Linked DNA regions of Homo sapiens. The protein of the gene in region 2 purifies or fractionates together with the protein of the main gene of each other region. This does not show direct contact. Each region holds a gene or a part of one and is shown on either strand. Other genes may lie near its edges.

The links.
Region 1: the proteins of RC3H2 (region 2) and HNRNPM purify together in Homo sapiens (affinity purification with mass spectrometry, with the first as the bait; 2 studies listed by BioGRID). This does not show direct contact.
Region 3: the proteins of RC3H2 (region 2) and HNRNPC purify together in Homo sapiens (affinity purification with mass spectrometry, with the first as the bait; 2 studies listed by BioGRID). This does not show direct contact.

The regions. Positions count from the first base shown.
Region 1 is NC_000019.10:8,468,854-8,472,604, forward strand, and holds part of HNRNPM (heterogeneous nuclear ribonucleoprotein M), read left to right. Parts: intron 1-2,472; coding exon 2,473-2,574; intron 2,575-3,751. UniProt on the Homo sapiens protein: Pre-mRNA binding protein in vivo, binds avidly to poly(G) and poly(U) RNA homopolymers in vitro. Involved in splicing.
Region 2 is NC_000009.12:122,898,700-122,902,450, forward strand, and holds part of RC3H2 (roquin-2), read right to left. Parts: intron 1-3,751. UniProt on the Homo sapiens protein: Post-transcriptional repressor of mRNAs containing a conserved stem loop motif, called constitutive decay element (CDE), which is often located in the 3'-UTR, as in HMGXB3, ICOS, IER3, NFKBID, NFKBIZ, PPP1R10, TNF and in many more mRNAs.
Region 3 is NC_000014.9:21,267,865-21,271,615, forward strand, and holds the start of HNRNPC (heterogeneous nuclear ribonucleoproteins C1/C2), read right to left. Parts: upstream 1,579-3,751; 5' UTR 1,434-1,578; intron 805-1,433; exon of another isoform or gene 1-804. UniProt on the Homo sapiens protein: Binds pre-mRNA and nucleates the assembly of 40S hnRNP particles. Interacts with poly-U tracts in the 3'-UTR or 5'-UTR of mRNA and modulates the stability and the level of translation of bound mRNA molecules. Single HNRNPC tetramers bind 230-240 nucleotides.

The DNA.
Region 1 (3,751 bases), on a different chromosome or scaffold from region 2:
GGGCTGAGAGTTTGAATTGGAGTTACACTAATAAACAGAAAATTACCATATGGTTTCACTTGAACCTGTGCCAGGTTAGCCCTCAGTTCTCTTGGCCAGTTCTTTTCTATAGATTTTTCAGGGTGAGAAATGAGCAGAGATTCACAACTTGAGGATATTGTTAGGATTACCTCATGGTAATCCTAGGATTGTAATACCAGGATGTAGAGGATGTGGTTAGGCATTTTGAAAGTGTCCTGGGGAAGGAAGAATCAGAACCTGTGAAGGGAATGAAAACCAGGCTGCACTCTAATTCAGAAGATACTGGTTAGTCCCATGTGGGCTAGCAGTGCACACTAGACATCTGCACAGAAATTCGCACGCAGATGTTTGCAGCAGGATGAAAGACACATGCTGCAGTGTGGATGAACCTCGATTTCATCTACAGGAAATGCTCCGCATAGATAAATGCATAAAGGCAGAAAGTAGATTAGTGGTTGCCTGAGGCCGGGAAGGAGTAAGTAGGGACGGGACTGCTAATAAGGTTGGATTTCTTTTTTGGGTGATGAAAATGTTCTGGAATTAAATGGTAGTGATAGTTGCATATCTCTGAATATACTAAAAACCACCGAATACTTTGAGTTTTATGGTATGTGAAGTGTCTTGAACAAATAATTTGTATGCAGAGGGGAAAGGGATCAGCTATTTGTGACACCCAGGTGAAAATCTGTCTCGTGACAGGGAAGGCTAGTTGATGGGCTACCACATAGGTAGAAGTGGCAAATATTAGTGCAGAGTCATAGATAAGCCAGAGGCTGGAAGCAAGAACCTCAGTGCATACAGCGGTGGGACGACTCAGGGAATCACTGGCGCAGGTAAAGCTCTCCTGGAGAAGAAAGATGGATGAGGGTGAGAGGCCTGTGTGTGCTGTGCTGGGGTGACCTCCACCAGGCGGGTTGAGGGGGCCTGGTCTGGAGCAGCAGCTCAAGCTCAGGGCCCTACTCACTGAGTTGGATGGGAGCCCAGGCCAGAGCACCTTTGCAGCGTAGCATTATGGCAGCATGACAGATGTATCTTGAAGGGAAATCTGTGGCTTCATGAGAAGGCTCATCTGTTGAAAGGCAACATTAGTTAGAGAAGGATTGCATTTCCTGGACATAACATACTCATTTCCCAAATAAATTGTCAGTGTGCTCACCTGAGCAGTGGTCACCCTGGACCATGGCGATGGCTCTTGTTGACTCTTGTGCTGGAGCAGGAGGAGGAGCACACTGCTCCAGGGAGCCTGTTATCCATGGCTCTTGGTCTCCCGGCCATTTCGGAGGCTTGACTTCAAAGCCTTCAGTGCTTTGGGAGAGTAAGTCACCGTGGCGATCTCTTGCTGCTGTTGCTATGCAATTAAAGATGGAATGTTCATCAGATGAAACGCCTGGGAAGTGGTGGCAGGTTTTATTTACTTTTTAAATGAACTTTGTTTGCTTTCTTTCCTTCCTTTCTTCCTTTTTCTTTCTTTTTGATGGAGTCTCGCTCTGTCGCCCAGGCTGGAGTGCAGTGGTGCGGTCTTGGCTTGCTGCAACCTCCATTTCCTGGGTTCTAGTGATTCTCCTGTCAGCCTTCCAAGTAGCAGCGATTACAGGCATGTGCCACCATGCCAGGCTAATTTTTTTTTTTTTTTAGTAGAGATGGGGTTTTGCCATGTTGGCCAGGATGGTCTCGAACTCCTGACCTCACGTGATCCACCCGCCTTGGCCTCCCAAAGTGCTGGGATTTCAGGCGTGAGCCACTGCGCCTGCCCTTGTTACGATTTTTAAAAGCTTACCTGGTTGTAGTTTAAGCCTCAGATGGTGGTTACCCCAGATATTGCAAGTGTCAGCTCTTTTGGCTGTTTCCAGAGACCAGCCTGTATTTCTGTGTCCCTGTCTGTGTTGGTAGGGCATGGAGTTGAGTGTGGGCTGGGTATCCAGTTGTGGGTTGGGAAGCTTTGGGGGAAGGAAGATAGGTTCTTTGAATACATACATTAGCTTCATTGTTACTAAAACCACCCAGATTCAGAGAGTAGTGGACACCCAGGATGTTGATTGGCTGGTTTGTAACGTGTTTTTTCATGAGAAACATCCTTTGGGCTACTAGGGATTGGGCACATTTGTGCTGCTTGCCACCTGATGTCTTGAGTCACCTTTTTTGATCAGACAGTTCTCAGTCCATGGGTTAGTGAAACAAATAGGCTCTCAAGAATCTTAGTGTGGGGGTTGTTAACTTTCCCGTGTTGGTTTTCAGCCGCCTTTGTTGTATACACACATATCCCAAACGCCGGAACAAGGCTCTGTTTCCAAGTGTGCCGATGTTGAATTTTGCATTGGGCCCTGAGGTCACTGGTGGGTGGGGGTGGGTAGGCTGAAGTGGATAGCTGCAACTCACTAAACACTCTTTTCCTTTGAGGGTCAAGGTTTGCTAAATAGGGGAAAACTAAGCTTCTTTCTCTTTTCTTTCCAGATGGCCTTGGTGGTATTGGCATGGGGTTAGGACCAGGAGGGCAACCCATTGATGCCAATCACCTGAATAAAGGCATCGGAATGGGAAACATAGGTCCCGCAGGTGAGAATGACAGTGCACCTTGCTTGGTGGTTTGGGGAAGTGAAAATTATTAATTATTGGGACAACTGGACTTTGAGTAGTTTAAATGGAATAAATATTTAACTGGGACAAAATTCCCTCCTTATTCATCTCTGCCTCATTTTGAATAAAGGCAGTATTTTGTATTTTTATCAAGTTGAGTCATTTTTTAAAAAGTCATTATGCTTTTTCATTGTAACCTGACAACAACCTTCTAAGCTGAAATAGTTGTGCCATTTGATAAGAGGAGGCAAGCCAGAGAGTTGATCTTGCTCAAGGTCACACTGTCAGTTACTGACAGGCTGCAGGTCTCCTGACCACGGGACCATAGCACTGCCGCAGTGCCCTGAAAAGTGTCTTACCAAGACCCCTTTGGGCCCTCCTGGTGTTTGCACAGCTGCTGCTAGAGAGCTAGGGGCATTGATAGATGCAAAAAAGGTGGAGAGGCCAGGCACGGTGGCTCACGCCTGTAATCCCAGCACTTTGGGAGGCCGAGGTGGGCGGATCACAAGGTCAGGAGTTTGAGACCATCCTGGCCAACATGGTGAAACCCCATCTCTACTAAAAATAAAACAATTAGCCGGGCGTGGTGGCGCACGCCTGTAATCCCAGTTACTCAAGAGGCTGAGGCAGGAGAATTGCTTGAACCCGGGAGGCGGAGGTTGCAGTGAGCTGAGATCACATGACTGCACTTCAGCCTGGCAACAGAGCGAGAGTCCGTCTCCAGAAAAAAAAAAAAAAAAAAAACCTGCATGAAAGCTTTGATGTGTAGAATAAACTCAGGCTTTGCTGTTTAGCATTTTCATTGCTGTGTAATGATGTATTTTGATTCTATTAAGGAATATGTCATTTTTATGACCTTAGACTTTGGTCTTTGTTGGAATCCTTTGAAATTGGAATATGGAAGCCCCTCTATCCCACCATTGTCAGTGTTGCATATCCCTAGACTCTCTTCCAGAGTCACCCTGGGGCTGACTTAAATTCTGGGCCACAACTTCAAATGGCTGTTAACGTTTCCCCCGACCCAAAACACACACACCCCATGTCTGACATCTAAACAGAAAGACTGGGGGTTGGGGAGGAAGTCTTGGTGTTTTTAGGAACTGGTTTTTATTTTGAAGATTTTACCTTTAACAGGGATTGATTTATTGAGACGGAA
Region 2 (3,751 bases):
GATCACGTCATCGCACTCCAGCCTGGACAAAAAGAGCGAAACTTAATCTCAAAAAAAAAAAAAAAAGTTCCATAAGTTTAGTAAAGTAAAAGATTTAGTAGCAAAACGATACTAATTTGAACACACTAAACTTCCCAGAATTTCTTTATCTTCCAATTCAAGACTTAACATAAGTCTGACAAAAGCTCTCTGGTGAACAAGAAATCTAGGTATTTAGGGCAATCAAACAACTAATACTTTATTTCACAGGAATGTTTACCAACCCAAATATATTAGTTCCACAGAAATTAGATGTTTAAAAATGTAGTCACATTCAAAGAGAAAAAATATATAACAGAAAGTATTCTCAATTATGCCAACATACAAAAAAATTCTATTAGCCTTTATTGTGTTTTTTTTTTTTTTTTTTTTTTTTTTTTCAGAGACAGAGTCTCCCTCTGTCGCCCAGACTGGAGTGCAATGGTGTGATCTTGGCTCACTGCAACCTCTGCCTCCCAGGTTCAAGTGATTCTCCCGCCTTGGCCTCCCAAGTAACTGGGACGGCACCCACCATCATGCCTGGCTAATTTTTGTAGAGACAGGGTTTCTCCATGTTGGCCAGGCTGGTCTTGAACTCCTGACCTCAGGTGATCTGCCCACCTCAGCCTCCCAAAGTGCTGGGATTGCAGGCGTGAGCCACCGCGCCCGGCCCTGCGCTTTTATATTCACAAAAACAGAGATTAAAAAAAATCTTGGTAAAAATGAATTACAGGGCTTGCTATGTAAAAAGCACCCCTATACAAACTTTCTCAAACAGCTCTAATGCAAATTATCTAATATCGTTATCTTTAAAGTAACCAAATCTTCCAAGTTATAATTTTACAACTTTCATCCTCAAATTACCACATCTATTAATGCCATCAATCTAAAAACCAATTAGTTTCCTTCCAACTTTAGAGATAAGCACTGAGCAGATGAATATATCACTCCCTAAAACTACTGAACATTTTTAACATCCAGTTTTCTGGTTTGCAGAGTTATACAAGAAAAGGCCTTTGAGGAAGAATGAATTTCATCTTAAATCTACTGAAAGCCCTAATATAGTTAATAACTTGAACTGATTAAATATTTATGAAAACAGGACACTGCGTGTAGTTTTTCATAATGGCCACCTGTTTGGAAATGTTAATTCTGTGGGTTAGGGTATCACAGGCCACCTGGTAGTACAAAATAAGAGCAAATACCTTTTCCTTAGTTTTCCAAAGCCTTTCTGAAATGCTTTATATTAAAGCACATAAGTGTGGGGCTTGGGGTGGGGGAGTTTCAACCATACAGAAAAATGCTATCTTTCATATTGTCACCTACTACACAGTTTTAAACTGTTTCAAACTATACCAGAGCACACTTAATAGTTTTATGTTACAATAGTCCTTAGTATAGTTTTATGTTACAATAGTCCTTAGTGTGTTTCAGCATAGAAACATCAGAGGTTTTAACATAATTAATACTGAGAAGTTTAATTTCTACCACAAATTGAATTAATACCTTTAAGATATAAAGGTAAAACACTGCCAAAATTTTGGCAATAACTCTACCAAATTTTCTTCTCTGTGTCAGAGTCTAGCTTTCTGACAGTAAATTATCAACTAAACTTCCCTTATACGATCAGATGTAAGAAACGCTTTGATTTTCCAAATATGTTTTTCTTCAGTAATATTATCAGTAAATCCTAGATTCCTTAATTAAGATAAATCAATATAAAATTTTACCTAAAACATAGAAGAAACTTCATTCCTTCAAAACAGGCACTTTGTAAACATTTACCTAGAAAATATTTTTGTAACTACCAAAAATGGTAAATATCCTATAGTTTTTATAATTTAAAGAGCATATAAATGAACCATGGAGCACTAAGACTACATATTAATTTGCAAAACTTCTAGACCTATACTAATACATTTTATGCAACTTATTTGAGTCTATGTAAGTCTAAATTGCTATGAATATTTATAGTTACTACTGAAGTATTCTTCTCAAATAATCAAAACATTTCAAACTGAGATAAAATGGACTAAAAGGCCTACAACTCAAGATACCTAAAGTGATTCCTTAAGAAAAACATTCTAATTATTTGTATTAACTAATTTTAGTTACCAGTTACAAAAATTGAAAAAGGATAATAAGATAAAGCATAGGAGTGAGAAATGCTAAATTAAAGGTGGGACCATAAACAATTTTTCGCTCAAATAATTTTCCAGACTGTAAGTTCCTTGCTATGAGTGCTGACACATAAAACAGGAAGCACAATAGGCATCTCTTATATGATTCAAATTACAAACTGCTTTATTAAGAGCCAGCTAAATACTTTCATTTTCTCTTATTAGTCCACCATATTATGCAGCCAGTTCAGGTCTACGGCATCTGATTTTAAAATGCCAGAATAAAGTTTATGCTTCTTTAACTGTCATATATGTATACATCATTTTACAATTCTCTTAATAAAAATGTAAACCTTAGGGCTTAGTTCTTCTAATTAAAACCATTGTTTTCATTCTTGTTAACCTATGTGAGGAATATAAGCTACTGAAATGGACTGTCACAGTACTTCCCCGTTTAGAAAACTTAAAAATAATTAGTTTTGTTCTTAAAAAATGATATTTAAAGCATAAGCACAATTTGGATCTCTAGCTAAAAGACAAGTAAAAACCAAAACAGCAATGGAAACAACCTGTAAGCTAGAAACTCAGTACTGGAGAAAAAGGAATTGAATTGCAATTTAAAAGACTGCTATAATATGTGATTTTGCCGTTAACGTGTGAAGTATATATGACTCAAATTTTACTTCTTAAATACACTATGTGGTTGAACTGTTTTAAAATAAATATTAGATATAACTTCCAATGCATTCTTTTTTTTTTTTTTTTTTTTGAGATGGAGGAGTCTCACTCTGTTGCCTAGGCTGGAGTGCGGTGGTGCGATTTCGGCTCACTGCAACCTCCGCCTCCCGGTTTCATACGATTCTCCTGCCTCAGCCTCCTGAGTAGCTGGGATTACAAGTGCGCACCACCATGCCCGGTTAATTTTTGTATTTTTAGTAGAGACAGGGTTTCACCTGTGGGTCAGGCTGATCTCAAACTCCTGACCTCGTGATCTGCCCACCTTGGCCTCCCAAAGTCCTGGGATTACAGGCATGAGCCTCGGCGCCCAGTCTCAATGCATTCTAATAGGGCAATAATGAGATAACTACTTCTTTTTTTTTTTTTTTTTTGAGACGGAGTTTCGCTCTTGTTGCCCAGGCTGTAGTGCAATGGCGCGATCTCGGCTCACTGCAACCTCCGTCTCCCGGGTTCAAGCGATTCTCCTGCCTCAGCCTCCGGAGTAGCTGGGATTACAGGCATGCGCCACCAGGCCCAGCTAATTTTTTGTAATTTTAGTAGAGATGGGGTTTATCCATGTTGGTCAGGCTGGTCTCGAACTCCTGACCTCAGGTGATCCACCCGCCTCAGCCTTCCAAAGTGCTGGGATTACAGGCGTGAGCCACCGCGCCCAGCCAACTTTCTATTTTAACAAGTATAACTAATATTAGTGATGACGAGAAAAATACTTTCTTTGAGATAGAACTTACTTCTGCCTATCAAATCATAGCCAATGGATAACTTCATCCTTCATATTACCAAAGTCCTTAGCTCTTTAATTATTCTGATTGTAACAGGATAATCTATCTGGAAGTTTTGGGTTTTTATACATCTACTTTTATTCCACTAACATATTT
Region 3 (3,751 bases), on a different chromosome or scaffold from region 2:
TTTTACCCTAACCTCATTTCTAACAGTTCAGCACAATGATAAACTTTAGTTTTAAGTTCCTGTAATAATATACATGTTTAAGCCTTAAGAAAGGGGTCGCGATGTTTTTGACCCTTATTTTACTTCCTATCAAATAGATTGCCTTACAGATGAATTTCTTACCCTGCAGAATGGGTTTAAACTGTGCTTAACAGCTTTAGTTTTTGTGAGATTAACAGATTGTGAAAAATAAACTTAGCCAAATCTCATGTGAGGATTAAAAAAAGCGATGTCCCAGATAAGTCAATGTGACACTAAAGATCTAAACAATTTTTTTTAACTTTTAAGTTTTTTATCAAATTTCAGCACCCAGCAAATAATAGGCACTGTTAATATTTGCTTAATATAACGTAGCTGTGAATTTTTGCCCACATTTAGGCGGACGGGAAAATTAACGCCAGAATATCCCGAAAGTCAAATTTTGTCATCTTACACTTAGGAAGTTACGTTAAAAAATTCTCAAGTCTCGTAGTATTTTTCTTAAGCGCAATTTGGGAATTTCCAGTTACCTCGTGGTTTCCGTCATCAGGTTCTTGGCAAAGATTGCAATACAGTAGTTTTAGAACTATATTAACTAGGTATTCCATTAACTAGGTAAAAACCACTCGACTGACCTCGTGGTCAAATTCCTTACTAGTGCTGCTACTGACTTAATATGACCCTAGCAACCAACACTTTTCTGCCTCAGTTTCCGTCTGAGAAAGAGAGTTAATACCTACCTCAAGCAAAGTTCCACTAACTTATATATTTCAAGTGTTTTGTAACCTGCAGATGAAAAGTCAGCTGTAAATATTAATATAGTTATATCACAATATTTCCTTTTACAAATGTAAGTGAAAATAACTACTTCGAGCTCCATCATTTGCTCATAGAGAGAAATAAAATAAAAAGTTATCAGTAAAATGCTGAATCTTTTGTTAAACCTTTCTCGTAGGCCACGCGGCACGATCCAGGATTTAAAGGCTCGCGATACATCTACTTGGTAACCTTCCCCCTTCCCCTCCCCCACTTTTTACATGTAAGAAGAACGGAGGTAATAGAAGGCATCGGCGCTACGTTAACTTCGACTATATTAATGAGCATCACGATCTTCATTTTCATGATCCCGTAGTCCTCGCGGTCGTAGAAAATGAAAGGAAAGCAGCCGTTAACACAGGAAGAGCGAAAAAAGGACATTTTCCCTGGCGATCGTGGCCTAGAGGACACCAGGTTAAACCTATACAGAGGCTGAGGCCTATAAAACTGCCCCCGGCTTCAACCTAATCCCCCAAAACAAGCAGAATAAATGAGGGCCCGGTTAGTTAGGGGGAAGGATTCCCACATCTTCTCTCCCACACCCCCTCTCGCTTCCCGAAAAACCCAGCGCCTTCCCTGCGTCCGCCCTCTCCACTTACCAAGAAGGGGAGGGAGAAGAGATTCGATTCTGAGTCTCCTACTCCCGGGTTCTGCGTAGAGAAGCCGACTGCTGCTGGAGGTCGGCAACGCGGCCACAACCGCTCAGTCTTCGTCTCTTCACAAAATGGCCCCCGAGTCTCCTCTGCCGCCGAGGCGAAGGCCTAGTCCCCGCCCCATTCCTGAGAATCTTCCTATTGGCTGTGCGTTTTTTCGCTCCCGCTCCTAATTAGACAGTTCAACCGCTCCTCACAATGATATCCAATCACAATTAGCAGTGGGTTAGACTAAGCAGGCGAATTTCCACATGCGTGAGAGAAACTAGTTTATAACTGGTTAGTTTTCCTGTCATTTATTGCCTGGAGAATGCTTATTGGCTATTGCACGGGACGACCCTCTGGGTGGAAACTCGCCTTTGTATCGCGCACCGTCTCACATCCGGGTATCTGGGAGGCCTGATTGGCGGCCGCGGCGTCCTATCGCTGCCCCTTAGAGTGCCTAGTAGAAGATCCGCCCAGACCTCGGATTTCCGGCTGCGCGGGGGCGGGGAAAGGGTTGAGGGGCGTAGTTAGGTGACGGGCGCAAAAGACCTGCCCCAGCCCCGGGCCTAGGGAAAAAAAAGCGCGAAATGAAGCCTCCGTTGTGCAATGTGAATAAAGAAAGGACTTTTCTTAAAATGAGGAGGGAGCAGCAGTGACTAGGCCTTGTTAAAGTGTGTAGAAAACTAACCAGTCCTGCAGTTTTTCCAACCCCAGACCCTTTCTCAGTTCCAGATTCGAATGTCAGCTACCTCGTAGACATCTGCTTCTTGGCCTATTAAACCCTTCTTCAGACAACACATGTTCCATCGAAACCAACTGACTTCCTTATTCCTCTCCAATATAAAAAGGAAGTGCAGAATCCTGGCCTCTGGCCCCAGGGCATCTAATATCTTAAGTGCCAGCAAAATTGGCCCATCCTTCCAAATCTGGTCCCTTAATTTCCCTCCTCTTGAAATGGCTTGTCTCCTACCTACCCCCGTCACCTGCCAGTCTCTCTGGTTACATTATAGGAACTGCGCACGCAGTGGGGTAGCATCAGCTCTACTAAGCCAGCGGTTTCTTTTTTCTTTTCTTTTTTTTTTTTTTTTTTTTTTTTTTTTGAGGCAGAGTCACTGTCGCCCAGGCTGGAGTGCAGTGGCGCGATCTTGGCTCACTGCAACCTCCGCCTCCCGGGTTCAAGCGATTTTCCTGCCTCAGCCTCCTGAGTAGCTGGAACTACAGGTGCGCGCCACCATGTCCAGCTAATTTTTGTATTTTTAGTACAGATGGGGTTTCGCCATGTTGGCCAGACTGTTCAGGTGATCCGCCCGCCTCTGCCTCCCAAAGTGATAAGATTATAGGCGTGAGCCACCACGCCAGACCACTTTAAACTATTTTAAAAAGCAAAGACGAAAAATATGGGAGAAAGTATACACTAAAGTGTTAGTAGTGGTTCTCTCCTGGTGGGAAAATTACATGTGATTTTTTTTTTTAACTTTTTTTTTTTCAAACGGAGTCTCGCTTTGTCACCAGCCTGGAGTGTAGTGGCGCCATCTTGGCTCACTGCAACCTCCGCCTCCTAGGTTCAAGCGATTCTCCTGCCTCAGCCTCCCGAGTAGCTGGAACTACAGGTGCGTGCCACCACGCCCAGCTAATTTTTGTATTTTTAGTAGAGACGGGGTTTCACCATGTTGGCCAGGATGGTCTCCATCTCTTGACCTCGTGATCCGCCCGCCTCAGCCTTCCTAAGTGCTGGGATTACAGGCGTGACCCACCGCGCCCAGCCTTAAAATCTTATTGTACTTTTCTATATTTTCCAAATCATCTACTTTGAGCAAGTAATCAGAGGGAGAATATCCTACGAGTGCTTAAAGCCTCGACTCAATTGCCACATTGCAATTTATTTAAAATTATCTCGTAGCACTGTGGGTAGTTTTACACTCCTCTCCCTTCCTGGATGGTAAGATTTTTTGATGGCAGAGTTTAATTCTTACTCTTCAATATATTTTCCTTGTTTACTACCTATTAATAAATTAATAAAATATTAACCATTAACTTTTATTTATCAGGGGAAATTTTTATTTTTCCAGGACAAGCAGATAGACTGTCCTTTTTTTCTCTCTCTTTCTTTTGAGATGAGGTCTTGTTCTGTTGCCCAGGCTGTAGTGCATTGGCATAATCCCGGATGATTACAGCTTCAACCACCCAGTCGCAAGCAATCCTCCCACCTCAGCCTCTGGAGTAGCTGAGACCACAGGTGTGCACCACCACATTGGCTAATTTTATTTTTATATTTTGTA